2 separate regions of the Homo sapiens genome follow, and region 1 is linked to region 2. The links come from fine-mapping of genetic effects on gene expression. A gene starts in region 2. The other region holds a variant in brackets. All regions are shown on one strand. Distances are from middle to middle.

What was found. PIP is the estimated chance that this variant, and not a neighbour inherited with it, causes the effect.
Region 1: its variant is the best candidate, but not a certain one, in a credible set for the expression of LINC02552 in substantia nigra (GTEx, PIP 0.56).

Annotation. Positions count from the first base shown.
Region 1 is chr11:104,014,428-104,017,356 of GRCh38, reverse strand. The region is part of intron 1 of PDGFD (platelet derived growth factor D); the gene reads left to right. Among named protein-coding and RNA genes, the nearest start is that of DDI1, 21 kb to the left of the region's middle. The variant C/T (reference allele first, on the strand shown) is at 1,477.
Region 2 is chr11:104,607,680-104,610,608 of GRCh38, reverse strand. It overlaps LINC02552 (long intergenic non-protein coding RNA 2552), which reads left to right and starts at 1,307. Exons shown (of 4, transcript NR_120585.1): 1 at 1,307-1,372.

The DNA.
Region 1 (2,929 bases), 590 kb after region 2:
AAAAAAAACGGAAAAACACCCAAGGAATGTTAATAGATCTAAGTAAAGAGGGTACCTTAGTCCGCTCAAGCTGCCATAATAAAATACCGCACACCAGGTGGCTTAAGCAACAGAAATTTATTTCTCACATTTCTACAGGCTGGGAAGTTCAAAATCAGGACACCAGCACATTGGGTGTCTGGTAAAGCCTGTTACCTGATGTATAGATGGCACCTTCTCTCTATGTCCTCACATGGTAGACAGTTTAGGAATCTCTCTGGAGCCTGTTTTATAAATCCGTAATCTCATTCATGAGGGCTCTGCCTTGTGATCTAATCACTCCCAAAAGGCCTCACCTCCTAATACCATCACCTCGAGGGTTAGAATTTCAACATGTGAATTTGGAGGGGACACAAACATTCAGACTATAGCAGAGAAATATTTCATGGCTGAAAAAGTCAGAGATTTCTTCCCAAAACCTGCTTCAAGGTGACCAACATTTCTTAAATAGTGCTACATGGCAAATTGTGGAAAAAAAGATTTTTCTGCCAATCCCACCTTTACACCAAACAGATTATAACCACCTTGTTCAGAGCAACAACCGTGTAGTATTAATGTTTTCATTCGAACAGTGGCCATGGTGCCCTTTCCGTGTTAAAGTAGCATTCGTACACTCAGGAAATATCGGTTGAATGCATATTTCAAGGGCCTTTTAAAGCTTGATATAAACACAGACATACCCAGTAGTTGCTAATTACTGCTCATTGTTTGCCACTCCAACTTCTCTCTTGCCCCTTATTTCTTACTTTTACCCTGATGGGTGGACATGGGCCTCAGCTCGGGGAGAACTTTGTGTGGGTCCAAGCCAGTCTTGGTAAGTCTGTTCCCCTTGCCATGACTGGCATAGGCCTGAGAATATGCCCAGATTCTGCCCAGTGAGACAGAGGGAAAGCTTGCTTGGGGATTTGAGAAAGGCTCCGCTTTCTTAAAAAGATATTTAGAAATATGTCAAGAAAGGCCTTTTCTTTGGCCTTGAATCCAACCCTGCGAGGGAGAGATAGCTGAAACTGCTGTCACATTTTAAGGAGAGCAGCCAACACATTCAGGATGGCAGAACAGAAAGGTGGAAAAACCCATGACTACCATGCAAAGCCATGAATTAATCAAACCTGAAAGTATCTACCTCCTGACTTCCTGTGAGAGATGACACCTTTTCCTTATTGTCTCAGTCAATTTTAGTTTGGTCATCTGTAAAATTTGCAGCCAAAATTAGCTTTTATAAGACCAGCAGATTCATTAAGCATGTGATACTGTGCAAATAAAAAGACCTCTGCCTATGTGTAAAATTTCAGAGGGATTCATTCAACAAGTAGATTTTGAGAGCTTACTACTATTTAAAATTTATTAATTGTGAGAATGTGTTTCTGTTGGGGTTTTGGACTCTGTAGCACAAACATGAAATTGATAGTAAAAACCAGCTGTCATTCAATGTTGTTT[C/T]CACGTGAGCTCTTTATATGCATGAAGGGACTGTCTGTGTCTCTGTTTTTAACCAAAAATGAAAATAGAAATGGAAAATGGGTGAATGGCTAAATTGGACAACCATGCAAAACTCTCACATGATATTGTAACTTTGTGAAATATGCCATTCTGGAGTTCAGTGCATACTAATACTCTAGTGCTTTTTAATTTATTCAGTTTTCAACTTATTAAAACCCATTTCATTCAGTACATAGTTACTAGATCTAATGTAAAGACATATGTAGGCTAGAAAATCATGCTTTTGAATGTACTGTTTTCTTTAAGGATAAAGTTAAATAGATGATTTTCCTATGTGCACATTTGCTTTAAAATCATTTTTTGTATTCCAGATGCAAAGGTAATGCTGTGTTTATTTTTCTTTTTTCTTCTGAAATACCAAGAAAGATGACCTGTAGTTCTTCTTGCCTCTAAAATTGGTCTTTTTTCTCAGATTAATTTAAAATGTAGCTTCGTTCACACCTGAGACCCCTTGAGAATAAACAAAATCTGCATTTCTTTTTCAAGCAGTACCCTGTCAATCTAAGAAGAAAAGAGAATCTTGTTTCAATTGCTGGCTTCTCATAGCATGTCATTTGTAGCAATCTCACAGAAGATTACTAACTCTAGCTAAATTTGAAACTTAGATTTTTATTGAGTGTGCTTCAGAATAAAATCTAGTAAGATTTAAAAGCAAGTATTCTTGGTTTATGAATTAATTTTTTTAAGTAGCACATTAAGAGTTTGGAGGAAGCGATTCACCAGCAATATCTTTGAAGCCTTCAAATGACGGGAATAGTAAGTTCTATCTTTTCCTTTGCAAAAATAACAGCAACAGAGGAATTGAGAACTTGACCATTCTGCCTAGTGGGATCATACTTAGGATGAAAGCATGAATTTATTCACCATCTAAATGCAGCTCCTAATTCCCAACAGGCACTCTGTAAAATCTCAATAAATGCTGATAGAGTGAGGAATTACTTTGGGTCTTGTCCCAGAATATAACTTCAAATTTCTTTTCTGCTGATCATGTGAGAGACTATTTGATTATTATTAATATATGGGCTCCCAGGGAAGCCAGACAGATGCCAGTATATTGTTAGTCATTTTTTCCATAAAGCTCACCAATTTTGTAGCATAAACCACAGTAGACCTCGAAGATGCCTATTTGGCTTCACAAATTGGTTGCTTTTAGCAATGTAGGCACACACAATCCCATCTTTCTCAGGATGTATTAAATGCTAGTATGTATTATTCTTTATTAAAGGCTACTTCTAACTCATCTGAAAAAAAGATTCTAGATTACCGTAGGAGGTCCCACAAGAAAGCATGTTTATCTTTTGTTTGTTTGTTTGTTTGTCTGTTTGGAGAGAGGATCTCACTCTGTCATTCAAGCTAGAGTGCAGTGGTGTAGTCATAGCTCACTATAGCCTCA
Region 2 (2,929 bases):
CTAAAAATGATGGTATGGCATGTGTTCAAACATGACATCCATTTCATTTTACAATTTTATCTTTTTATATAGCAGGTAGATTTCTGGCTATCCTACACAATATAATTTTTTGTTTCCAAGAAGACCAGATGAGGTAGGCATCTGTATTAGAAATACGCTAGACCTCCCTATCAGAATCTACCTGTCCAGAAATAGTATTATTTATTGTATCCCTTTTTGATCCTTGTTACCAGCCTCAAAGTAGCAAGGCTTCTTCAAAGAAGCTTAGCTTTGATCGTGACCAGAGCCAGGTTGACAGGTGAGATGTTAAAGTTTGTTTTGCCCCAACATGATCTTGTCATGACCCATTTTGGTGCCATGCAGCTGAAGGTATGTTTTGGTTGAGGATTCTAACTATTCTAACTTCCAGTGAATTCATGCACAGCTGGATCTTGTTGGGAAAAAGAATCATCTTTCAACCCTTCAATGGTATTTCCTACTTACCATTTCATTTAACATTTATCAGAGTGCCACCTTTGTAGTAAAATGCTGAAGTGAAAATTCTTATGTTTAATAGCAGGGAAAAGTGAAAATGATTGTATCTGATTGAATCTGTACTTGCAGTGAACAGTTTAAATTTAAATTGGGAAGGTGCCAGAGGCCTATTGGCTTCCTTCCGTAATTGTCAAGTTCCATGGAATGGAGGAAGTTATTTTAATTCCAAGTAACAAGAATAATTTTGCATCCTGAGATCCAGTGCTGCTACTTAAAACCAAAATACACCAACATTTTATGGCACAGAAATACAGAAGATCCTTCTTGCCAAATGCCTCTGTGTTTATTTACTTCAAGTCCCAGAAGAACAACCCAGATCAATTTTGCCACTGACATTATAAATAGCATAGCAAATTCATAAGGAGTCTTTTCTTCAAAGAACGGAAACTAATCTGAAGTCTGATTAAACTCACAGGGTCCTTGTGAGGGAGATGGGAAGAGGCAGAGTATTTTGTCTAATTTCAAGTTCAAGAAAGCAAAGAACACAAAAGTTAAGTGGCTGGTGTCCATTTACTCAAGTAAATGTATTCAGGAGTTGAGCCAGAAATAAAGATCAAGTCTTCTGGCCCATGCACTAGGCCCCATGCTGCCTCACAGCTTTCAAAACCTTCATTTTCTTGGGAAATGCTAAAAAGCTTTCCCCTACCATACATACTAGATTCAGACACACTGCCATCTACTGACCCACCAAAGGATGTGCCAGCACAAGACATCCTGACCTTCAAGGGAGGGAGGAACACCTTGAGAGGAGTTGAGATCCTGCTTTCTCTTCAGAATGCCATCTCTAGGATGCCAATGGGCTGTGTCTACAGTACTATGTAGGAAAGTGCTGCAAGAGGTAAGTGAATTTAGAATATTTCCTCCCCGATGAAGGGATTAGTATTCTGGCACTATTAATATTTATATAACGATGTCACAATGCACCATGTTGTCTATATGTGGGATATCCTTGAAATAACCCCTTCCTCTCGTACTCTTATTTTGACATATTCGTCTAGGGATTTGAATAGTATAAGACAGCCTTTCTTTTTCACATAAAACAGTTTGAGGAATGCCATACGATTTTTGTGTTGTCTATTTTGTCTTTCACTGGTGTCCTATAAGATGTGCTAGTTATCCTACATGATGCCAAGAAAGGCATAATAGAAACCAAGCTAAATAGCCACAGTCCTGTGCTTGTAGAAAATATCATAAAATGTCCTAAAAGAGCTCTAACAATAGGAGAACTAGGCTCCTAACTATAATTTCAGCAATATTCTTTTTCGTTCAGAGCCAAGGTATTTTTTTCCCAGAAAAAATATCAGTGTCTTTCTTGCCACATCAACCCTTTAGAGGTTGCCTACATTCTTCCTAGAATAAAAGTAACATTTTAAAGACTTCATCAAGCGATGATGAATACAATTACTGTTTTTATTCCATTTTTACAGCCAAAAATTAAAGTTATGATGTTTGTCTATTGCTTGTGATTGTACTTAGTCCATTGCCTCTAAGAAAGAAGTTGAATTTAAGTATGTGGACCATATATTTCTTTTTTGATGAGTGTAAATGGATAAAATTAATATCTTAATATATAATCAGTGTCTATAAAAGAATCCACGTAGTAGCAGAGAAGCATTTGTGCCATGCTGGTTACTTGTCTTCATTTGCTTTGAGATCTCAAGAAAAGTTTATTTCCCAGGATGGTGGTTCACAGGCATTGTGGTTGAGGACTATACATAGAAAACTAATTGTGAAAATAGAACTTATTCCTATTCTTTCAGGATATGAAATCTTATGTTCATGACAATTTAATTGTTTTTATAAAATAATTGGTTTGGCATTACAGTTAGTAAAGCAGAACTTATCCTTTGAAGTTTACAGCTTGGAACTCAATCTGAAGAAGACCACTGATTTAATTTGGAATAAATGTCTATATGTGTCCAACCAAATCTTTACAGAAATATCTTAAGTCTTCTTAGGCAGAAATAAGAAACTGTTGTTTCCAAATTTTTTAAATGTCAAGAGGGTCTCTAAAATTATGACAGAGATGAGGGATACAAGGAGAGATACATAAAGAATGGAAACATCTGGGAGTTTTACTGACTCAGTGAAACTAGGGCATTGTGAAAACCTAATTGAAAAATCTACAGAGAGAAAAGTCCAGTTCACAAATCTGGCCCTCACATGTTCAGTCCTTAGTAAAGGCTTATTAGATATTGCAAGATGAGAGTGAGGTCCAGGAATGGTTAAATGAAAAATGAGAAAATAAAAGGTTATGAGGAGAGCAGGAAGGAATAATAATAGGAGGGTGCCAAGGCATTTGAACATCTTTGTTATGAGCTTGGACAAGATGCTAGACATTTAGAAAGCTTACCTGAGTTAAACTGAACTACCAAACTTATTGAGAAGCAGTAAC